Homo sapiens: one gene and its partners. The protein of the gene in region 4 interacts with the protein of the main gene of each other region in a biochemical or structural test. Each region holds a gene or a part of one and is shown on either strand. Other genes may lie near its edges. The genes, in order: SH3GL3, SH3GL2, VASP and RAPH1.

Region 1 (7,037 bases), on a different chromosome or scaffold from region 4:
CACTGAGAGCACACTGGTGTGAATTCATTTCAGTTACGAAAGTATGTCCAGAGTTTGTGTTACACATTTACTGAGGTAAAGGCACGATCACTTCCACGTAATTAATGGGGAAGAATCCCGATTCTCCGTGTATCATTCCTTCATACCAGTTTTCATCTATTTGATTGGTTAATGTAATGATGTCCCCTTCTTTAAATCCTAATTCTCCTTGGTTTTCTGGCTCAAAGTCATAGAGACCACGACAGCAGGGCTGGTCCATGGGAATGTTAGAACCTGTCCACATGATATGGAGACAAAAAGTACAGATGAACATGATGGATTATCCATGGGAAATTGGAAATGTGGAAAAGCTCAGAGAGACCCTTAACAGCAGGCCTTGCTTCCTTCCCACAAGGCCAGCTCCACCCAGCTCACGGTGCCGTTTGTGGTCTCTGGCTGCCTCAGCTCTCCCAGCTGCCTGCGCCAACCCCATGAGCCCAGAGTCTATCTTTTCAATACTCCCAGGCAGAGAAGTCGTGCCCAGCCCATCTCCCAAAAGCAGCCAGTCAGCTCCACCTGGAGCCCTAAGGGAGCGACAGAGGAATCACAGGCCCACCTCCTTCTCTCTGGGAGCTTACAGTTTCTTTGTGGGGATTAGAAAATACACGAGAAACTTTTATTTATTTATTTATCTATTTTTGAGACAGAGTCTTGCTCTGTTGCCCAGGCTGGAGTGCAATGGTGCGATCCTGGCTTACTGTAACCTCTGCCTCCCAGGTTCAAGAAATTTTCGTGCCTCAGCCTCCCAAGCAGCTGGGACTACAGGCATGCGCCACCACGCCCAGCTAATTTTGTATTTTTAGTACAGGTGGGGTTTCACCATATTGGCCAGTCTGGTCTCGAACTCCTGGCCTTAAGTGATCTGCTCACCTCAACCTCCCAAAGTGTGGGGATTACAGGCGTGATCCACTGTGCATGGCCAAAAATCTTTTAAAGAACAAATATGAAGTGTGTATCACTCATGGTTCAGGAGCTCTGGGGAGAGGGTAGTAGGGAGGACCTTGGTGGTCAGCAAGATCTTCCTAGTTAATGGGCAGGACAAGGGCCGGGAGGAGAGAAACCAGGACAAGAAAGGCAAGAATATTTACAGACCAGAATTTACAGACAAGAATATTTACTGACATCTAGTCCCAGAATAACATCAAAAACATTTTTTTCAAAACAAAATCATGCTAATTGTAAACAAAAAATACATGTATGCAAAGTGGAGAAAGAAAAGTCAGAGCTGTAAACCATTACCCCAGAGATAACTGGGCTAGCTTTCAGATTCCAGATGTCTTCATGATTATATTTGTGCATATATTTACATATAGTTGTTTTCATAAAAGATTCTTCTTGTACAAGCTAGGGTGAATATCTTTCAATTTTAGTTACTGACTAGCTGTCAGCTCTCACAATGTAACATTTCTTCAACTAATCTCCTATTGTTGGACATTTACGGTTCTTCTTTCTTTTCCTTCCTTCTCTTCTTTTCATCTCTTCTTTTCCTTCCTTCCTTCATTCTTTTCTTCCTTCTCCCTCCCTGTTTTTCTCGATTTCTCTTCCTTTTTCTTCATTTCTTTCTGTTGTCTCTTTTATTCCCCCTTGGCTTTTATAGACAATTCTTTGGGAAAAAGAGCTTATACATAAATATCTACAAATGTGCACTATTAATTTCTGAGGATAAATTCCAAGAAAAGGATTTCATGGTCATAGAACATGAATTCTTTCTAAAATATCTGACATTTAGTGTCAATTTATTTTTCTATTAGGTTGGTGCAAAAGCAATCACAGTGGCCAGGCGCAGTGGCTCACGCTTGTAATCCCAGCACTTTGGGAGGCTGAGGCGGGCGGATCACGAGTTCAGGAGATCGAGAACACAGTGAAACCCTGTCTCTACTAAAAATACAAAAAAATTAGCCGGGCGTGGTGGCGGGCACCTGTAGTCCCAGCTACTTGGAGAGGCTGAGGCAGGAGAATGGCGTGAACCCGGAAGGCGGAGGTTGCAGTGAGCCAAGATCGCGCCACCGCACTCCAGCCTGGGGGACAGAGCAAGACTCCATCTCAAAAAAAAAAAAAAAAAAAGCAATCACAATTTTTACCATTACTTTTAGTGGCAAAACCTGCAATTACTTTTGCACCAACCTAATATCACTATTTTTCTTAAGATGTTTAGAAGTCCCTTTATACTACACATATTTACCCTTTATCTGTCATTTCTGGTACAAACATTATTCCCAACTTATCATCTGTTCTTTTTTTTTCTCATTTTGTTTTTGAAGTTTGTGCTGGCAGTGGGGCAGGGAAAGGGGTTTCTATTTTGTTTTGGCATGAATGCACAAATTGAAGAGTATAAGCAGTCAAACTAATCAAACTTTCTATTCATGGTTTATTCTCCACAGTCCTATATAAAGACTCAACTAAATTTTATTCTAGTATTTTTATTTAATTTTTTTCACATCAGAACTTTTATAATCTATTTGGATTTTGGCAAAATGAGGTAAATATCTATTATATTTAATAATGCTTATGCAGTCATAACAACATACTTAAATAATCCATATTTTCTCCAGTGATTTCAAGTATTGCCTTTATCTTTATCATATATTTAATCATCATGGGACTTAGATCTATTTTTGGATTTTTTCTATTTTGTCCCACTGACTCATTTTGGTAACAGTACCATATCATTTTAAATACTGTGGCTTTATAATAAATGTTAACAGGCCGGGTGTGGTGGCTCACACCTGTAATCCCAGCACTCTGGGAGGCCAAGGCGGGCAGTTCACTTGAGGCCAGGAGTTTGAGACCACCCTGGCCAACATGGTGAAACCCCATCTCTAAAAATACAAAAGTTAGCCAGGCATGGTAGCGCATGTCTGTAATCCCAGCTACTCAAGAGGCTGAGGCAGGAGGATCACTTGAACCTGGGAGGCGGAGGTTGCAGTGAGCTGAGATCACACCACTACACTCCAGCCTGGGTGACAGAGTGAGACTCCATCTCAAAAATAAATAAATAAATAAAATGTTAATAACTAGTAAAACTAGTTCATAGTCATTACCCTTCTATTTCAATATTTCCTTGCTATTCTCATGAATTCATTTAACTAGGTATATTTCAGTATTAATATGACACATTTCTCTCACAAAAATCTCACTTCAATTTTGACTAGTTCATACTTTTTTTCTTTGAGTATTAATAAGATTAATCTTAGGAGTTTTTTTTTTTCTTAATAAGTGACTTTTGCCATCCTATTTGATGATTTCCATTTTTATTTCCTTTTTCTGTTATAAGACTTTTTCCTCCCTCTAGACTTCAAGTGAGAATTGAACAAGTTCTGCTAGAGATTATGTTCTTTCTCCACTAAGTCTTCTAGGTCCAAGTAAAGAGAATAGGTACGTTGGGGTATTTCTGTGGCTGGCCAAATGAGATGCCCCTTTGTCCTGGGGAGGGGTAGAGAGGTGACAGCATTATGGGAGGAGGAAGACAAGAGTTGGGGCAATGGAGATTCCTGTTGTGAGAAGGATTATATTATAGTTGTTTAGACAGCTTGAAATTCATGGAGTAGCGCCTATATCTCTAAGGAACAGGGCACTCTAAGGAGCCTTCATCAGCGGAGCTCCCCAGGTTGTACCAAGGTGGCTTCCTGTTGCCTTCCTATGGCAGTGGTTCTCAACTTGGTGGCACACTAAACAGCCCACTGCCCAGGGTGAACCCGGCATCAGTATTTTTTGTTTCTCAGGTCCTTCCTATGTCCAGGGTAGGTTGACAACCACCAGTGAAATGATCCTCCCCTCTCCTTCCCCTAAGGAAGCGTTAAAGGTTAAAGAGACTCAGCTGGCGAGGAAAGAGAAGGGGGTAATGGTAGGGGAGCTCTTCTTCCTCTTCAGGGAGGCAGCTCCTGTACTGGGTCGTGACTTTGAAACTCTGAACCCACCTGCAATATAACCTCTATGATCTACATGATGTTTCTAGCCTCTAGACAGCTCCTTCCGTGACAGACCCCACCCCTGCCTAAGTCTGTGTATTCCTCTTGTCATAATGATGAAAGCTAGGGGGTGGAAGGCTGTAAATATTGGGGATTAGTTCACTATTTTGAATTTGAACAGAACAACATTCAATGATTTCAAACAAAGCATGGGGAATAGAGGGCTTACAATACAGAACTTTTCATTTTCCTTGGGTCATGGAGTGTGTATATGGGTGGGCAGGTGGGGGCTGAGCACTGAAAACCAAGGGCAACCTGAGCTGTGAGTCAAAGTCTACTTTATTAATGTATAACTGTTTTAATGTGGATTATAAAAATAATTATTATTCTTTTAGCATTTCTCCCACTACTAGACTAGTTTTTAACAGAGAAGGGGTCAGGTGCCAAACCACATGGTAGTCTCGGGAAGCATTTCCTTGAACACAGAATGTTAATGCTAGAATGGAATTTGGCAGTCCTCCATGAGTCCTCTCCTTTTCCAAGAGAAGCCATCAATGCCTCTGAGAGGTCATAATGGCCTGGCCCCAGGGCTACTGGCTGAGCCAGAAACAGGAGGGCTCCAGACCCTAGGCCATCAGCTACCTTGCTCCATGTCACCTCGTACATGATCTATGACACCACTAAGGGTTGCCAAGACATTTCATAGGCTGACACACTGATTACAGGGCTAATGATAGATAGATAGATAGATAGATAGATAGATAGATAGATAGATAGATAGATAGATTTATATATTTCCCTCCCATTTACTCTATAAGCCACCTGCAATGACCAAAATGCTTAGTGGCAAGCATACATTTGTCCAAGTGTATGCACCACCTCCATGTGTAAACCAGGCCACCACCTCCATGTGTAAACCTGGGTTCTTGCTGCACACACACACAGAACAAATCATGGAAAAGCTGCATTACTCACTTCTCATGTCATTCATTCTTGGCAAGGAACCACTGCCACATTGCCCACTTTGATATTCTGAGAGCTGGAAAGAGACCAGCACTCATATCACACTCCATCAGCACCTAAACCCAAGGCAGGGCATCTCTCCAGAGACCACTGAGTAGAAAGACCCTGTTCAAGAACTCCCTGACTCAGGCAGTACAAGTGCACCTGGCCCTCCAGCCACCACTGGGCTGGCTACAACACTAAGAGCAATTGGCACTTGCTAAGTAGGCAGTTGGTAAATCCACCCCAACCAGAGCTCAGACTGGCTGCCCTGAATTATACATGCAGCCGGACGATATTCTGAAGTATCAATGCATTTTTCATTCTGGGTCATTTCTGTTGCCTGGGGCCCTCAACCCAAGGAGCTGGGGCTTGCCTCCCTTACTTGAGGAGGAGGGTGGAACCCAGACATGAACAAAGCAGTCAATGTTTAGCTTTTAAATTCCCAAATAATACCATTTCAGTTGTGAAACATTGTGAAAGCCAAGGCTTTTAGGCTTTCATGCTAGAGCCAGGTAGGCTTTTATAAGATTTAAGAGCGAGAGAGAGAGAGAAACTTCTGGGTTCCAAGAACTAGAGCTTGAAGAACTCAGAGCCTAGCATTTTGATTACAAGCCATGGAGAGGGAGGAGCTGTTTCCTGCCATCCAGAGAAGAGATACAAGCTCTTTCTGGAGGCAGGGAAGCAGGGAAGGGGCCTGCAGTGAGAAGAGGGTGAGCAAGAAAATTGAAATGCTCCTTGGATGCCACCCTGGGGAAGGGGGTCTTAGACTCCACTTTCCACAGAAATCCCGGGAGAAGGCAGCTGTCAAAGTTCTCTGGACTAACACGGGGGCTGGAGCCCAGTGGAAACCATGTGGTGTCACTAAGTACAGATGGGGCCTGAAGGCTGGTCGCTCCCTGTGAACTGTGAACAAATTCCCTCAAGTCCCCAGCAGGAAGTGCTGAGGGGCCACTGAGGCCAGAGGCTGCCTGGGGGCAGTGACACACGGCTCCAAATACAGAGATTCAGCAACCCAGAGAGGGAGGCCTAAGCCACAGATGTCAGCACAGATCCTGGCCCAGGCCCCAGGCCTCCTGTGACGAGTCACCTCAGCTGTGGAAGTGAGCCTCCCTACCTGCCACCATGATGTTCTGTAAACCCCCCTCACATCTAGGCAACATCTTAGGACTGGACCAGGGGGAGGAGAGAACCTTCAAGAAAAACCAACAGCCCTGATAGGGAATTTCTACTCTGAATTGACTGTGTTTAAATCTGGAATCGCCTAAGTCATAAACGGATAGTCTATGCTTTCTATTGGAAGAGACTGAGCTACCTTGAAATGGCAAGATTATGCTTTTTTCCACCATTAGAAGAAATGGAAAAAAGATTTTAAAGCTTTTTTTTTTTTTTGGTCAACAACAGAAATGGAAAAAAGATTAAGTTGTTTCCGCCATTGGTCTACATAGAGGCTTGCAAGCAAGTTCAGTTCAGCTAAAGAGAAATTAAGTTGCTGCCCGCCTGAGGGACAGTGTGTGAATTTTCCCTTGACACAAAAGTCACCATGGATGGAGCCCCAAAGTCCAGGCAGAATGGGCTGGATTTCCTCAATGGAGGCTTTCCAACTGTTAGATATAAGCCTCTCCAAGGGACCTGAATGCTTGGTTTCCCACCATCAGAAGCCAGCACCTCAGCTGAAAACGTCTCGTAAGAAAAGACTGATCCTACCCAGCGTCCCATCCCTGTTGACAACCCCTTCCCCTTGCCCCTGTGGTCCTGCAGCTGGCAGTTCCTCATCCACCTCCACCTCCTTGCTCTCTCACATTCAGTAGCTGGCACCTGGAATCGCTGGGCATAGTTGTGTAGGAGCTCCCAGGTGGCTGCTGTGGATCTCGGTGTCCTTGAACAGGCGGCTGAAACCCCTGACCCTGGGCTGTCCAGTGAGACGGCTTCAGCCAGCACTGCCCTCCCCAAGTGGCCTTGTGTTGATTTTCTCTTACTCCTGAGACCTGGCTTCAACGAAACGTGAGAGCAGAGGTGGGAAAACACAGTCTTCCTTGTTAAAGTATTGAAACAAAGATTATTTTAACAGAGAAAAGGGAGTGTCCC
Region 2 (7,037 bases), on a different chromosome or scaffold from region 4:
GGCCATGTGGCCTAAGAAAAAAGCTTGCTGAGGTGACCCTTTGAGGTATACATGTTCAGCAAAATCATCCTGTTTAATCTGGCTAAATTAAAATAACACATATTATAACATAGGGCCACTGGTATATAGCCAAACAGGCTGTGCCCCACAACTCCACGGAGCCACATTCACACGGTAGTTTCCTACTACTACAGCCCTGCTGTGAGGTACATCTAATGAGGTGAAAGTAGCTCTCTCTGATGGCAGAGGACTTGACCGCCATTCAGAGAAACACAAGATGTGAAAAGAAACAGCCTCTCACACAGGTTATGGCTGGCTGTGAACTCCACTTGCACCACTGAGTGACCCTGGGCTAGTTACTTCACCTCTCTTAGCCTCAGTTTACTCATCTGTTAGTCGAGGCTAAAAACACTTAGGTTACAGGGCTGTTATAAGATTGATGATGATATGTATCCAGTACCCACATGGAATAACTGCTCAGCAAATGGCATCCATTATCAGCAGTAGCATCCTGGTGTTCCACCTGTGGCAGCCAAAATATAATCCAAGTATCGATCTCTCATAAGCAGAAAATTAGATTCAACAGAACAACGTAAAACAAAGCACAAGAAAAAACAAAATCAAAACAATCCACAAGGCGCCTCTGTAGGATAAGCGGAATTTTGGCAGACGTTTGTCTCCAAATGTATTCTATGATTTCCATTTCTTTATACATCATTTTATAGCAATAAAATGCAAATGTGAAATGCAGGGAACTGTAGAATACCTTTCTTCCAGTCTGACCGTGACTTGCTGCAGGATCTGGACTGCCTGCTTGTGGTACTCCAGCTGAGCTTGCACAAGTGCAGAGAGCTGGCTCACTTGTTCAATCTGCAGATTGATGGGAAAATCATGCCTTAGTTTTACACGTTACCATCCCTAAACAGCCACTACTGTTTCATACATACACCAGGGCTGCCCTCAACACACAGCCCCTGGTTGGTGGTGCTGATGACTGTGTGATAAGCCAACTAAGATAGATAGTTCTGCAGGTTTCAAATCCATCAAGGATAAAAGAAAGCATCCTTATGCTTAGAATCATGCGTATCAGTACCATGAGGAGAAGCAACATGGGTAACCCTCAGGAAGACCATATAGCTCTAAAGAGTCTCATGCTTAGCTACAATCTTGTATCTGGGATTTGACTTCTTTTATTCTATAGAAAAGAAGGTACACTGGCCAAAGGACTCTTTGTTCCTTATACTTTTCATGCTGTTAATATCGGTACTGTTAATAAAAATGTGACAATATCTCACATAATGTACCCGGAGAGGCGACATGGTATGACAGAAAATCTTCTGTGCTCTCTGAGCCTCATCTGTAATGTAAAAGGGTTAAATCAAGTGACATCTTGAGTTCATTCTTGCTCTAATATTCTAAGCTTGATTTCTCTTGATTTTATGTTTCACATTATGATCCAGCTGGGTAGCAGCCTCCAAGTCAACAGAAGCAGTGTTGTCCCATGAATTTGGGGATGGGGAGGGGTGCTGTGTTGCAGGGAAGGAGCACTGTGATTTGGAGCACCCCTCATGCACACAGTATTCCTCTCGAGGAGTTAGGTGGACACAAGTTGTTTTACATAAACAAAAACCTACACTGTCTCCAGGTGGTAGGAAAGTCTGGATATGTTCAACACACTTCCCCTGCCACAGTCAGGAGTAAGGCAAGTAGGCAATGTGATGGTTAATTTTAGGTGACAACTTGACTAGATTAAGGGATCCCCAGATAGCTGGTAAAGCATTATTTCTGGGTGTGTCTGTTAGGGTGTTTCCAGAGGAGACTGGCATTCACTTAGTAGACTAAACAAAGGAAGAGCTGCCCTTCCCTATGGGGGTGGAGACCACCCACTCAGCTCAGGACCCAGATAGAATAAAAAGCAGAGGAAAGGCAAGTTTGTTCTCTCTCTCTTCTAGCGAAGGGACACCCATACGCTCCTGTCTTTGGATGTCACAGCTCTAGGCTTTCTGGCCTTTGGACTCTGGGACTTGCACCAGTACTACTGATGCCCCCTGCTCCACAACTGAGTTCTCAGGCCTCTATTGAGTTATACATAGATCCTCAGAAATATCCTTTATCTTCCCACTATTGATAAGAGAGATGGTCCCTGACTTTACGATTTGTAGGCTTTATGATGGTGCAAAATTGATATGTGCTCAGTAGAAACCATACCTCAAGTACCCTTACAACCATTCTGTTTTTTACTTTTAATGCGTTATTCGATAAATTACATGATATATTCAAGACTTTAACCCCATCATAAGTTAAGGAGCATCTGTACTTTAAGATTCATTAGCAGTCGAGAATCTAGTTAAACTACAGGAATGCAGAAGAAACTTTTCTATTTCTCAGTCTACTTTATGACTGACAATTATTTAAAATAAATAACTATCTACTGAAGTTCTTATCACATAGTGTAATCAGATATTAATGCTTTTAAGGGTTATGGCCTTTAACATATTAATGTTGTGCCTCGATGATAAGATTAAATTGAAAACCACAGGAGTCACTTACATCCATCTCCAAGAGATTGAACATGCTTGACTCAGCAATTTCCTTAGACTCATCAAATTTCTCTAGAGCTTGACGAAGCTCTTCATCCGGAATCTTGCCTTGTCGTTTCTTCTTATAATCAAAATCCAGGCGTCGACCCTCCAACTTCTTTAGATGATGCTGCAAAAGTCAAGGGCAGGAATAGGCTTTGAAAGGGCTTATGGAAAAGGCTTATTTGAGCTCACTTCTCCATCACGTCCATTAACTTCCAAATTAAGATAGGCTAAGTTTTAAAATACAACGCCACCAGAGAAATAAAGAAACATGCATCAATGGGGCCAGTGCTTTCAAAGGCTAAATATGGGGGAATATCTTTAAAAATAATTAAGAATAAAAGATAAATTATAGGAAATATCAGTGCCCTTTATTTTCTGGCCTTGTCAGGCCAAAGCCAAGCTGGACTAAGCCTTTGCAGCCCATGACAGAAACAGAGAAGGAATGCACATGCCCTACACACAATGAAAGGACACACTCACAGGCCCCACAGGCCCTGTCTTCAAGAGAAATGGTATCTCATGAGAAGCCAGAGGAAAAACTCTTTCCTTGAAATTAAGTGAGATAGAAATGGCAGTCTTGCTTTTCAAATCATCCAGTCTGTTAGAATCACGTAAGTTGCTCATCACAATATGGATTCCTGAGCTCTTGAATCGATATCTAGGGTGGGGGCCTAGGAATCTACATCTTAACACTTGCCCCAGCTGACTGATGCAGCTGTCACCAGAGAAACTAAATCCAGTGATTTAGTTTAAGCCTCCCACTTGACATATAATTGAACTCAAGAACAAAATCTCACTTGGAAGGGACCTACCAAGGGATTATATCTAATGCTCCATGCTGAGCTTCAATCCCCTCCTTGCACCATACCTGGTAGATGGCTGCCCAGGCTCCACCCATCATCTCTAGTGACCAGGTAGCAAAGTAGTTTTCCAAAGCTAAAAAGTATTGTTTTTCCCCGATAGCTAGTCTTTCACTACTAATGGATGAAGGAAAATCCTGGATTTTCCCTTGTTACTAGTATGTATGGAGCAGAATGAAAGGAAATGAAAACAAAGTAGGGAGTAGTTAAAAAAATGAAAAGGAAAGGAGGAAGAATAATATTCTAAACCTTCCCTCACACTGCATCCCCCGCCCCTCAGTCCATGCCCTGATCCAAAAACTAAATGCTCATTTGGAAGGAACTTTCTTTTTTAAACATTTGAGCTATAGGGTACAGCATTGGAGTCAGAGTTCTATTTTGGATTTAGGGTCAGTCTGTCACTTACTAACTCTATAATCTTGAGCAAATGGTACTGCTAAAGGAGATTTAAGCTAGAATAAGGAGGAGGAGGCCCTAGTTCAAGTTATGGCAATCCATTTTACACCCAACAAAGTTTCAAAAAAGCTCAACAAATATTTGTTAGATAAAAAAAAGTGAGCAAACATTCCACACTCAAAGACATATGAACTTTATTATAAACAGCTCAACTGCTCTACATGTTTTAGAAAGTGGCTAGTTGGTATTCTTCCTCAATCCTAACAACCATTATGAAAATATTAATATAAAAACACATAACATCCATCTAATTTCTAGACTTGGAAAAAAATAAAAATATGTGCTTATGCAGTGATAGAATAACTATTTATTTAAGCTAACAACTAGTACAACTAACATTTTAGTGGGTGAAATCAGCCCAGCAAACCATAGAATAATTAACAAAACTGTGTATTCTCAGGAAAAGTATATTATCCTCTGGAGAAAAAGTCTGAAAAAAACTATTCAATATGAAAATCAAACATAGAGAAGCCAGAGACAGCCCTCATGAGTGGCACAGTCATAACAGGCTGAAAAGTATCACATTTCTGGTTTCTCTCATTTTGTCTTACTGGGTTGTTTTGTAATTAACGTGCCCAGAGCTGACAACACACAGGGTAAGCTAAAAAAATGTTTTCTAAAGAAAAAAGGCATCTGCATCTGTATGATTTCAACTGCCCACTTTCCAGAAGACTCATTGTACATACTTGAATTTCCCTAAGATCTTTGTCATGAAGATTCTGAAGAGGGTCAATGAAGTTCTGCTTCACTTCTATGTCCAAAGAGTCTTTGACCTCCGACAGTTCCCGCATGGCCTCCCCGACCTCACCAAGTGCTGGGCCTAGGAGAGAATAAAGCTCTTTCATGTTACAGAATAAAGATGAAATGCACTCGCAATAACAGGGCCCTTCACAGATGAAAACCCAAAGGATTACCACTTGTCTTCTAAAGACAACAGACAAGAGAGAATAGGTATCTTCAGTTCACTCCAGGCAACAGACTCAATGCCCCCTAAGAGGGTAAATACCTCTCATCAAGAATGGAACAGTTACTTTTTCCTTTAAGAAGCAATTTAGGAAGCTCCCTGCCCTCTCTTGTAAGTACCAGCTTTCCCTAATGTGGGACTAGCTTAAGGCAAATCTATTAGCAGAAGCAAGTACCAGAAATAGCCGGGTTCAACCAGGAAGGAGATCCCACATCACAAGGGGGTGAAAATAGAAGATGTTGGGTGTGGTAGCTGAGTTTTGGGGGAGACAGGGTGAAGGAATAAATCATGTCTCACCTTGGGCAGTAGAACTAGGTACCATATACAAGTGAGCAAAGATCTATGAAAAAGGCCATGAGGCAGGGAGGGCTTTGAATCATGCTGACTGTGCCTGCTCACTCTGCTTCAATACTCAATGACTGCCAGAAACACCCAATAGAAAGTGCCAAGGAGGCATCTGGATATGTCAACCAAAGCTGTTGTAAAGACTGAGGTCTTATAGTGGGGGGGGTGGGAAGAAAACTTGTAAGATAAATCACATTAGAGCGGATGAAATAATTCTGAAAACAAATTTTTGGCCCATGTGTGTAGGATCTAAAACTGAAAACCAAAATATAAAATGATTTGACCGATTCCCTACAGAATTTCTTACCAGCACCAAAATCCCCATGGACAAATGAAAGAATTACAATGTGAGGAAGCACTTGTTACCAAAGTTGCAATCATCTCCAAGCTCTCTTCCAAATTTGAGCATGGCCTCTGCCAGCAGCGCCTCTGCCTGAGGATAGCCTGGCCCCTTCTCCTGGCCACGGATTTTTGACATGGTGTTGATCATGCTGAGCTTAGCTCTGGAAGCTGAAGGTGAAGAGAGAACAAGCTTTCAGAGTAGGCAATGTGACACTGCGGAAATAGGGCTGGATGGAGGATCAGGTCTCAGAGCAGCCTACAAAGTAGCTCAGCTACTGATAAGTGTACCTTCAGTACGCTCCAGTGTTCTCTCCGTCAGTCAGTCTTATCAACCACTTTTTTAAAGCACTAAACTCTCCCTTTCCCTTAAGATCTTAAAATGAATTACAGCAATTCTGTTCTGGATGAAGCAGGATTACACGCTCAAATTCTATCACTGTGTGCCCTTCCCCATCCTCCCTTCACTGTGGTGGCCCCTGCAGTGACTCTGTGGAGCTGGGTGCTTCCATGGAGAGCTTTTTACAAACTCTCGAATTATGTGATGATCTCTAAATTTTATTCTAGTTTTATAGTTCAATTCTAGGAGTCTAAGGATTAAAATAAGGAACCAATGGTAAATTCCTGCAGAGTGGGCCTTATGCCTTGTTTCACTTATACCATGTATGAAACAGAACTATTTTCAAAATCATTTCTCAACTAAGATTCTGATGGTAAACAGACCCATGAAGAGCAAAAATACTGTGTTCATTTAAAAGACTTAATCACTTCTCCAGCACATAACTAGAGAAAATTAGTTTTGTGCCTCAAAGAGAACATTTCAATTTCTCTTTCTTTGTTTTTGTTTTTATAAAAGAAGTTGCCTAGAAACCAATTCCAGTGTTAGTGGCAAAAACAGCTTTATTAAAAAAATTGTTAAAGCCTATGACTTAATTGATGCTAGGATACCTAGGTTCCTCAGGTTCAAAATTAGAGTTGGGATTACACATTAACCTAGGACTATACCCCAAATCCCATCTTCAATGGAAACCCCAGATAGAATCACAGCTTAAGGTACTTCCAGCATTCAGTGGCTGACAATCTTGACATTTATTTCACAAGGCTTTTATTTAAACTTTGAGTCTTAGAGGCATTGAATAGAGATGAGAAAAGTTATCAGGAGAGCACATCCTGCAACCCTGTCCCAGGGATATTACAATGAGCACGACAATTATGGTCCCTGCTTTCACAAAGTTTATAATGAACTGAGGGTAGAGTCTATTTTAAAATTAATTAGAGTGAAGTAAATATGCCAAGTGCCTTGATGGGGGATTGAGGAGAGTCCCAGATATGCGGCACTGTCCTCATCAGTTGGGGAGGGGCATCGCAAAGGATTCCTGGAGGGAAGTATCTTTAAGTTTAGATCCAAACAGTATGTAGCAGTTAGGCTAACAGCACATGTAAAGGCTGGTGGTGACTGGAAAAAATATAAAATTCATTTCTTATTTG
Region 3 (3,042 bases), on a different chromosome or scaffold from region 4:
AGTGAGCTGTGATCCTGCCACTACACTCCAGACTGGGTGAAAGAGCAAGACTCCAACTCATTAAAAAAAAAAAAAAAAAAAAAGAGGAAAGAAGCTGGGAGAGTGGTAGAGTGGGGGCAGAGAATCATCTTATGAGCCCTTTCCCAAATCAGAAACTGAGGCCTGAGGTAAGCAAATGGACTTGCCCAAGGCTACACAAAGTGAGGCTGCTTCTGGCCTCCCCTAGGGTGGTGAAGGGCAGGGTGGGATGGGGAGGAAGTGGCCTCCTAAGGGGCATGGGGAGGGAGGCTGGAGGGGGCAGAGATCATCCTGGCTGCGGGCCTGAGGATGAGTGAGCAGGCGCAATATGCAGGGTGGGAAGGAAGATGAAGGGAAGGTGGATTCCTGGGAGGAGGCAGGGGTTCTCAGCAGAGGACCAAATCTTCCTGGAGGGGCACCGGGGGCCGAGCACACCTCCATCCCCATCAGAACAGGCCTTCAAATCACTCCAGAGATCTTAGCATTTATAAAAACTGGCAGATTTATTCTGCAGGGGCCCATTTTCAAGAAGCTAAAGGTGAAGGTGGGAGGGGAGAAGTTTCCTCCCCTTCTCCTTTCTCCCTCATCTTATTTCCTCCAAGGGGTAAAAAAAATGGCCTGGACCCCAAAACCTACCCAAATAAAAAATCAAAAAACTGAGGTTCCAAAAAGTTACAGCATCTTATTTCCTCATAGAAAAGGGGAAGGAGCCAGAGGGAAGGGGAGTCCCTGGGGTGGGGGGATATCTCACCCCCAGCCCGGTGAGACATCCCCTCCCCTTAAATAGCTGCCCCAAATGGGGCAAGCCCAGGGCTATAGCATTTAAAAACTCCCACATCCCATTTTATCAAAACCAAAGAGAAAAAAAAATTTCCCTTTTCCCCCAAAACCCAAATATATATATATTTTTTTTTCTTAAAAAAACCAAAACTTTGAAGGCATTAAGCGTTAAAGTGAATCTAGAACAAGGGAATGTGAAATTCCCTCCTTCCTTCCCCCTTCCTGTGGGGTTCATTGGTGCATCCCCAGCAGAGGGACCGGCCCCAAGGGGATGGCAGAGGGGAAGGACCAAAGGGAGAAAAGGGCGGGGGCCTCCCCAGCCAATCAGCAGCCAGTGTGGGTGTGAGCAGGGAAGCCACACCCCCTTGGAGTTTTCCAAGTGGGATGGGGAGTGGGAACGATGCATTCCTGTGTAGTCTTCAGCCAATTCCAAGTCAAGTAGAGGCAGGGAAAGCAGGGTGACAGGCCGGGTGTGCGGAAAGGAGAAGCGGGTCTTCTGGGTCCCTGTGGTCAGGGAGAACCCCGCTTCCTCAGCTCCTGGACGAAGGCTGGAAGGAAACAAGGAGCAGAGGTCAGGGGCAGAGTCTCTGCCTCCTCCCTTCCAAAACAGGGCTCTTGCCCAGGGACATGATGCCTCCAAAATAAGTAAATGTTTAAGAACAAAACCAAAGCAAACCACCTCACCTTCAATGATTTCCTCTTTCACTTTCTGCAATTCCTTCTTCACCTCTTCCAGAAGCTCCTAAAATTAATGGGGTAAAACTAATCAGGAGGGGGTACCGGGACTTGCAGGAATGAATCCCCCTTCTTTTATTTTTTGAGAAGGAACCTTGCTCTGTTGCCCAGGCTAGGGTGCAATGGCATGATCACAGCTCATTGCAGCCTCAACTTCCCAGGCTCAGGTAATCCTCCTGCCTTAGCCTCCCAAGTAGCTGGGACCACAGTCACCTGCCGCCACAATCAGGTAACTTTTTCTTTTTCTTTTTTTTTTTGAAACAGAGTCTCCCTGTCACCCAGACTGCAGTGCAGTGGCCCAATCTCGGCTGACTGCAATCTCTGGCTCCCGGGTTCAAGCGATTCTCCTGCCTCAGCCGCCCAAATAACTGGATTACAGGTGCCCCCCACAAGGCCCAGCTAATTTTTGTATTTTTAGTAGAGACAGGGTTTCGCCATGTTGGCCAGGCTGGTCTCGAACTTTTGACTTCACGTGATCCGTCCCCATCAGCCTTCCAAACTGCTGGGATTATGGCTGTGAGCCACCATTCCCAGCCTAATTTTTGTATTTTTAGTAGCGATGGGTTTCACCATGTTGGCCAGGCTGGTCTTGAACCCCTGACCTCAGGTGATCCACCCACCTCGGCCTCCCAAAGTGCTGGGATTACAGGCATGAGCCACCGCACCTGGCCTTCTCAGGTAACTTTTAAAAGTTATTTTTAGAGATGGGGGTCTCCCGATGTTGCCCCAGGCTGGTCTCAAACTCCTGGCCTCAAGCAATGCTCCCACCTCAGCCTCGCAATGTGCTGAAATTACACACATGAGCCACCGTGCCCTGCCAGAGTCCCCTCTTTCTTGTTGATGGAAAAGCCAGGGGTAGTAGGTTTGAGACCTACCCCTACATCGACACCATGACATCGCTGTCAAGGTCGCAGAGTGACTGGAGGATTCTAGGGGAGAATTCTGGATCCTTGGAGCCGGAAAAGTACTGGAGAACATCCAGTACCAAGGTTGGCAAGCGCATTCCAGCCTCCTGCCAACTCCAATTGGTGATGGACAGCTGGGTCAATGTGCGGAAAGAATTCAAGGCACTCATCTGGAATGAGCGCGGTGATAGATTAATAATGTCTGTCACAGGTGCCAGAAAAGGGGGTGTGGAGTCTCGGTCATCCTTGACCCAATCCAGTTTCTCCATTTGTCAGATTGGAAACCTGAGGTTTCTGAGATGTTATCTAGGATCATACGGCATGCCAGTGGCAGGGGCCAGACCTAGATCTCTCTTGCTGTGGTCCCCAACTTCCCCCCCAAGTTACCTGTTTCACCCTCTGTAGGTCCGAGTAATCACTGGAGCTGGGCGTGCAGGGTTGGGTCTCGGAAGTGGTCACCGAAGAAGACGACTTCATCCTGGGGGAGTTGGTGTGGTTTGGGACAGCAATGAGATTAGAGAGAGGACCTGCTTCCCCGCCTCCTATTCCAGGGGTCACATTGAGCTCTGCCTTATAAATTGGGCAAGTCCAAGTATTTTTGGGG
Region 4 (7,656 bases):
TACTGTTTAATGGGAAGAATTTCAGTTTGGGATGATAAAAAATTTCTGGAGATGGTGGTGATGATGGCACAATAATGTACTTAAGCCACTGAACTGTACACTTAAAAATAGTTAAAATGGTAATTTGTATGTTATGCATACTTTACCACATTTCTTTCAAAGAGTATATGTGTGTGTTGCTTTAGTGGCAGTGTAAAAACATGGTTAAGAATACAAGCTTAAGAATTAGGCTGCCCGGTTTCAAATCCAGCTCTGCCACTATAGCTCTGCAGTCTTTGGGCAACTTATTGTCTGTGCCTATTTTCTCAAATAATAGACTCTATTTCATAGGGTTATGGCGAGAATTAAATAAATTATCACATATAAAGTGTTTAAAACAGTGTACGTCATACAGTGGCCACTTTTTATTATTATAAGTTTAAAATACATTTTTATTGAGATTAAAGTCAAACATCTGCAGAATCTCTGAAATTCTCAAGTTCAGTGAAACAGTTTAAGAAGCAGTGATCTAATCCAAACTTCTCATTTTATAGGTAAAGGAATTAAGAGTCCAAGATAAGTTATCTGCCTGAGGTCACATCTTGCTTCACTAATATTAATTTTCCTAAAATTAAGTGTTTGGGATTAACAATACTAATGTTGACATTCAATTACTTCCAAACCAAGGCAACCAAAGCCATGAGATTCTACAATGTGTAACCAAGAATCTGTGAATAGTGTGACAGTTATCCACGATGCCAATCTAGTAAGTATTTATGGGGTGAGCACCAAAGGGCAGCAAAACCAAAAGACATAATCATCCTCAAAGACAATGGTTAAAAACACCTCTTTGGAAAATAAAGAGTTAAATATTTGTGAAAACACACCCAATAGTGCCCACTACTCCACTCCTTTCACCCAGTCACATACTCTATAATCTTAGTGAGACCTCTGAGTCTGAAAAATAAGCTGCTGCTTCTACCAAATAAAGCTAACGTTTATCATAAGGCAACATCTACAAATAATTCTTTATTACATTCAAACAGGAGACAGCAATCTAAATTATACAAAATGTCTAACCCAAAAAATCATGAATTAAGCTTTTTGTACTTACTTGAGTAGGGCTGCATCTGGTTTCTGGGAAATTCACCACACAAAAAGCAAAATAACGGAGACAATCTTTGAAGGTCAGACTCAACAAGAGTTAAAAGCTATTGAGCGTCTCTATTTTGCCCCTCCCCCAAAGGTCCTCCCCCTCAATTCGGCTCTCAAAGGATAGCACCACCATGTGAAATGTCCTCCTCCCCATCTGAATCTGCTGAAATCCTACTCATCCTTAAAGGTTTCACTTAAATGCCGAGGCTTCCATGCATTCCTCCCTCAATTTAGAATTAATCTCTCTTCTTCGCTCTCCTATTCTATACCTCAACATTTTACTATATAGTTCACTGTATTACACTTACCTACATTCACTAACCCCCCGCACCGCACCCCCAAAAAAACCACCCCGAGGAGGAAAGGAATTTAAGGTGCTGTTAAACACCTCTATGCCAGGCAAGGTGCTACGCATTTTGCATACATTATCTCATTTAATCTACATGAAAAACATCTGGGGAGGTAAACAGGTGGTGTTATTCCCATTTTACTGATAGGGAACGTACTGCAGAGTTCAATAGCTTATCCAACTCACATTGCAAGCCAATTCCAGGGCGTACGGTTTCCCCCACTCCGAAGAGCTCTTTCCACCACCCCATGCTTGTTCACCTGGTGTCACCCAGCCTAACTGACAGAGTAGGTATTCCATAAATGTTTGCTGAATTTAATATCCCCATGGACTGACTCTTTAATAATCCGATCACGCCTCATCCCTAACCCGTTACCTTTACTGTTCCTTAACGGTGGACTTTACCTACATAAGCAGCTCTCCACATTTCCCTGAGAAATGCTGCAGACAACATCAACCCTTATTGGAAGATTGAGTGAAGAACTTTTCCATTCTCCCGGATTTCCCCAACGGATCTTCCCAAAGAATTTAAGAAATGCACACACGCAAGACACATGTAACACTTACACCCTCCCTCAAGGCTCTTATTTCATATTAAACCATGTCTTCGAGCTTGTAAGCAATAAGGTTTATGCGGTTTCCAGCTCACACAGTGGGGACACCCTAAGTCACTGCCTTAAGAAAACCACATCTTTCAACCTGTCTTAACACGAAGGCATCCTAATACTATCACACTGCCCCCTCCCTCCGTCCACCCCCCCCCCCCCCCCATGAATTGCAGTTTGGATTTCCGGCGGGAATGTATAATACAGACCGCAAGAGGAGACGCGGTTAAAAAGCAATGAAGCAATTACTTATCCTGTTTAATTAGAAAGAAGACACAGAAGGAGCCCCGCCTTTCAAAATCTCTGCACTGAACTCATCTATGAAAGATGGGGGCATCGAAACCCAAGCAACCCGACATCCAGTAGCTGGTTTCTGCAGCTGGGCGGGGGAAAGTCCTTTCCTCCCTGCGGTCCCGGGCCACCAGCCCCCGGTGCTGGGTCGGAGAAGCCTAACCGCACCCTCCCAGGCGGCCCCTTATCTCATTGTCTCCCTCCGTCGCGGTCCCCAGGGGCGCAGGGTGCAGTCCAGGCCCCACCGACCTCCATCCACCAGCCGGGAGCGGTCCAGCCAGCCCCGGCCCGATCCCCAACCTGGCAACGACCCCGCCCCAGGCTGCCGCCGACCGTACCGCACCCGGATGGCGGGGCCGGGCGCCGGGAAAATGGAGGCGGGAGCGGCAGGAGCGCCTCACGGCCCCGCGCCCAGCCGGCTCCCTACCCCCTGGCCCCGAGGGCGAGGCTAACCACTCACCGCGGCAGTCGGTCGGCCTTCCCGCGGCCCCGGGCAAGGAAACCGCCGCTCGCGCTCCTCCAGCCGCTGCCTCCGCCTCCTCCCCAGGCGCGGCGCTCCCTCGCCAGAGACGCAGCGACTGCCAGCAGCTCCCGCGCCGCGCGCTCAGTGACTGACTGACTGACTGACTGACTGACTGACTGACTGACTGGCGGGCGGCGGCGGGAGCGGGGGCGGGGCGGCCGCAGCGCCCCGCGGCGGCGGCGGCGGCGGCGGAGCCGAGTGTGCTCGCGTCCAGCCGAGACGCAGAAGGCGGGGTTGAGGGCCGGACTGCCGACTGTAGGGCCGACTCGCGCGGGACCGCGCGCCGCCCCCGCCCGCCGCCAACCACTCACTTCCGGCGCAGGCCGCCGCGCCCGCCGCCCTTCCCTAGCCCGCGCCCCGCGCCGGCCCTCCGCCCTCCCTTCAGGCGCCCGGCCGCGCCCGGCCGCACTCAACCGCGGCTCCGCTCGTGCCTCGCCTTTCCTCCGCAAGTCCCTGTGAGCCGCCTACAGGAACGAGTGAATCAGAGAATGAATGAGTGGGGAGGAAAATCCCAGTGCTGCCCCACCCCCTGCTCGCCTTTCATAGGAAGCCGGCCCAGCAGCCTCTGTCCTAGCGCCCTGGGAGGCACAGCAGCCTCCAGCAGTTCTGTCAGGGAGCTGTACGCATCCACCTTTATACGCTGTCCGTGTATTCAGAGACTCCAGAAACGCATCCGGGGTTGGCTCGGTCACTTACAGGACCATTGTCGTTGAGATCTGTGAGGCCCTTCTTTAGGAAATCCCATTTTGGCCAAAAAGTCTCTGCAGTTTCATGGAATGTATTGGGAAACTTAGGAACGGGACATTTCGATGACCTTTACTTTTTAAACTTCGAAATCTGTTAATCCTGCCTCCTTAATTTCTGTCCCCCCACCCCATCGGAATTGTGTAGTAGTAAGGTGTCGGCATTTTTCCTTATCGCTAAGCTCAGCTGCTGCCTCTTTAGATGCAGGCTTGACTTCGGCAGACTTTTAGATTTTAAGTATGTCCTTATTTTGACCTTCACCTAAAGTTGATCAAAGAAAGGAACAAATGGAACTAAGTTATGTTTGCTTGGCTACATGCAAAGCAAGTTTGTTGACAGCATTAAAACAATTGAGAAATTGGGAGTGTGACCTGAAATTGGTTGCAATGAACATTGCTTTTTCATGTCTTCCCATCTGCTTGCTAAGAATTTATTTAAATTTTCACAAAGCATTGACTGTACATTCCTGAAATCCTAGCTCCCTCTCTAAGAATGAGAGTGTTCATTTCTCTGTCCTGGGGCCAAATCCTGGTTTGGTTAATTACATTCTTACTTCCTGATATTCTTGAGGACTTTCAAGTGGTTTCAGTCTTTTTTGTACAATCTGTTCCAAACTGGTACACAATCTGTTTCAAATTGGTATTTAGAACCATACAATACAGATACTGGCTGCCTTTCACACTTGAGATATCTGTACTTTTGAAACATAACTGCCCTTTTGTATTTTAAGTTCAGTAGGTATGTCAATATTCTTGTATAGAATAATACTATCTCTTGACTGGATTAAGAAAATGTGGCACATATACACCACGGAATACTATGCAGCCATAAAAAAGGTTGAGTTAATGTCCTTTGTAGGGACATGGATGAAGCTGGAAACCATCATTCTCAGCAAACTATCGCAAGGACAGAAAACCAAACACCACATGATCTCACTCATAGGTGGGACTTGAACAATGAGAACACTTGGACACAAAGCAGGGAATATATCACACAGGGGCCTGTTGGGGGGATGGAGAGGGGGGAGGGATAGCATTAGGAGATATACCTAATGTAAATGATGAGTTAATGGGTGCAGCACACCAACATGGCACATGTATACATATGTAACAAAGCTGCACGTTGTGCACATGTACCCTAGAACTTAAAGTATAATAAAAAATAAAAATAATAAAAGAATAATACTATCTCTTATAAATGAAGATGATCCTGCTGACCAACTTCTTTTAGACTTCTCTTCCTTTCTTGTGGGAATCATCATTTGCCACCTAATTATTTCAAGAAGTTATCCTCCAAAAGTGAATATAATACAACACTTTATTCATCCTTGTATCTCCCACAATATCTAGCATAGTATCTTGCACAATAAGTATTTATAAATTAATAAATGCTTTAAAATTTTTCATAAGTGATAATTTTATACAAATGTATCTAGTCTTTCACCTCATTTCCCTTGTGACCAAGTTTGTTGACATTAGACACACCTGGGTGCCAAACTTAATGAATCCTATTGTCATTAAATGTACTAGGCTGTGTGATACCTTACAAGGAAGATGATTCATTTAAACCTCCTTAAAAAAATAGACGATTGAAGCCAGGAGTGGTGGCTCGCACCTGTAATCCCAGCACTTTGGGAGGCTGAGGTGGGCGGATCACCTGAGGTCAGGAGTTGGAGACTAGCCTGGCCAACATGGTGAAATCCCATCTCTACTAAAAATACAAAAATGAGCTGAGCATGGTGGCGGGTGCCTGTAATCCCAGCTACTCAGGAGGCTGAGGCAGGAGAATCACTTGAACTTGGGAGTGGAGCTTGCAGTGAGCCAAGATCCTGCCATTGCACTCCAACCTGGGTGACAAGAGTGAGACTCCATCTCAGAAAAAAAAAAAAAATAGACCATTGAGTGCCTTTTACATAGGTCTTAGCCAACTCTTCTCCAAGTGCTTAGCCTAAGATCAAGGTTAATTAAAAGAGAAAAAAGGTCACTTTCAGTCATTGAGAAAAGAGTGTTCTCATCAGTTTCTTTAAACCATTAAATCATTCGTTCATTCAATCAGAGTTTATTAAGCTACAATTAAGGCCCAGGAATACAAAGACAAGAAAGACGTGGCATGATGCTTCCTGCCTACAAAAAGCATACAGTCTAGTGGGTAAAGCAGGTAAGGAAGTCATTGTTAGACTGGAAGTCCATTACCAGATCAGGAAAGCCTTCCTGATGGGGAGATTCTTGAACTGAATGTTAAATGATAGGGAGGAGCTAACCAGAAGAAGGAGGGAACAAGCATTCCAAACGAAGAAAACAATATCTCTGCAGGTGTGTGGAAGCACCAAGCATCACCATGCTTTAGAGGCACCGTAAGTGTATTAGTCCGTTTTCATGCTGCTGATAAACACATACCTGAGACTGGGAAGAAAAAGAGGTTTAATGGACTTACAGTTCCACATGGCTGGGGAGGACTCACAATCATGGCAGAAGGTGATGAGGAGCAAGTCACATCTTACATGGATGGCAGCAGGCAAAAAGAGAGCTTGTGCAGGGAAACTCCCATTTTTAAAACCATCAGATCTCATGAGACTTATTCACTATTATGAGAACAGCACGGGAAAGACCCACCCCCATGATTCAACTATCTCCCACTGGGTCCCTCCTACAGCAGGTGGAAATTATGGGAGCTATAAGATGAGATTTGGGTGGGGACACAGAGACAAACCGTATTAGTAAGTAATTCCATTTTGTCAGAACAGGCATAGAGAAGAGTCAAAGAGGTTGGAGGAAAGGGTAGGAAGGGCTTCATTCATGAAGGGGCTCTTGTTAAACTAAGGAATTTGAATTTGATACTCTGGGAAATGTAGTAAATAATAAAATATTTGAAGTATTTTAGCTCCAGAACAACTGAGTTTGTGTTTTGGAGACCAAGAAGACCAGACTGGAGCAGGAGAAAATTAGGAGGTGATGGCAACAACCTGAATCCTAATGAGATGTGTGCTGCAGGTCTCAATAAAATCAAGAGGTCATAAAATGGCGAGGAGGGACTAGATGGGAGATATATTAAACAGGTAGAATCTACAGAATATATAACTGGATATGAGGGAGTGAATGCAACAGAGACATTTAGAATGACTCTCAGGATTCTGGTTTAGAAGAGTGACTGAATGGTGGTGACCTCTGAAATAAAGAGCGTGGGAAAAGAGCAGGTTTCAGGGAACTGGCTGAATACCTGTATGAGAAAGAATAGTACCATAAATCCAGGCATCTTAGTCCATCATTTCCCCAAGTGTTCTTTGGAACTCTAGTCCCACAGGATTTTAGTAGATGTGATTCCCCCTCAAAATTTTAAGTTCCTTTAATCAAATGAGAATGCCAGACAGTTCAATGGGTTTCTAAACTAGAGAGATTTCTGGTGGTTTTAATATTTTAATGTGCACTGGGAATTTCTGAGGTAGATATTATATACAAGCGCTTTCCAAATGTATTCAACCATGAAACCCTTTTTCCAATGGAACATCTTACAAGACATGTGTTCCACAGCACATACTTTGGGAAATGCTGACCTAAACCAGATTTTTGGTTTATAGTAAAGGAAGCTGTAGCTTAAGGCATGAAGTGACTTGTCTAAAGTTAAACAGCTATTACTAGAAGATACTGGACTAAGGTCCAGTATCTTCTGACCCCAGTCACATTCTCTTTCCAGTACATACTGCTTTATGAGTTACAAACTCAATTCCAGCACCTTCCACCAATCATGGGGAGAGGAATAAAAAATTATGGAATATATCGTTTTAAATGATGTTTCCAATCAGTCATTTTTAAAGATATGCTAATTTTTAATGGTTAATATTTTACATAAGATAAAAAGATTTGTACATTGGAGAAGTGGGACCGATTATCACCTTCATATGATCTTTCTGATAATTGAACAGGAGACTTATAAAATTAAATTGCCTAACTAAATAGAATATTCATCTAGTCGTCCTATCCCTGAAGTAGCTTTAAATAAAATAAACTTTCAGG

What was found.
Region 1: the proteins of RAPH1 (region 4) and SH3GL3 interact in far-western blotting, tested with the Homo sapiens proteins (one study listed by IntAct).
Region 2: the proteins of RAPH1 (region 4) and SH3GL2 interact in far-western blotting, tested with the Homo sapiens proteins (one study listed by IntAct).
Region 3: the proteins of RAPH1 (region 4) and VASP form a complex in vitro, tested with the Homo sapiens proteins (one study listed by BioGRID).

Annotation. Positions count from the first base shown.
Region 1 is NC_000015.10:83,611,318-83,618,354, reverse strand, and holds part of SH3GL3 (endophilin-A3), read right to left. Parts: intron 6,942-7,037; exon of another isoform or gene 6,938-6,941; coding exon of another isoform or gene 6,768-6,937; intron 274-6,767; coding exon 68-273; 3' UTR 1-67. UniProt on the Homo sapiens protein: Implicated in endocytosis. May recruit other proteins to membranes with high curvature.
Region 2 is NC_000009.12:17,785,064-17,792,100, reverse strand, and holds part of SH3GL2 (endophilin-A1), read right to left. Parts: intron 5,721-7,037; coding exon 5,577-5,720; intron 4,722-5,576; coding exon 4,588-4,721; intron 2,710-4,587; coding exon 2,551-2,709; intron 871-2,550; coding exon 767-870; intron 1-766. UniProt on the Homo sapiens protein: Implicated in synaptic vesicle endocytosis. May recruit other proteins to membranes with high curvature. Required for BDNF-dependent dendrite outgrowth.
Region 3 is NC_000019.10:45,524,444-45,527,485, reverse strand, and holds the end of VASP (vasodilator-stimulated phosphoprotein), read right to left. Parts: intron 2,917-3,042; coding exon 2,826-2,916; intron 1,541-2,825; coding exon 1,483-1,540; intron 1,347-1,482; coding exon 1,309-1,346; 3' UTR 503-1,308; downstream 1-502. UniProt on the Homo sapiens protein: Ena/VASP proteins are actin-associated proteins involved in a range of processes dependent on cytoskeleton remodeling and cell polarity such as axon guidance, lamellipodial and filopodial dynamics, platelet activation and cell migration.
Region 4 is NC_000002.12:203,532,272-203,539,927, forward strand, and holds the start of RAPH1 (ras-associated and pleckstrin homology domains-containing protein 1), read right to left. Parts: upstream 3,031-7,656; 5' UTR 2,840-3,030; intron 1,961-2,839; exon of another isoform or gene 1,938-1,960; coding exon of another isoform or gene 1,889-1,937; exon of another isoform or gene 1,117-1,888; coding exon of another isoform or gene 1,094-1,116; intron 1-1,093. UniProt on the Homo sapiens protein: Mediator of localized membrane signals. Implicated in the regulation of lamellipodial dynamics. Negatively regulates cell adhesion.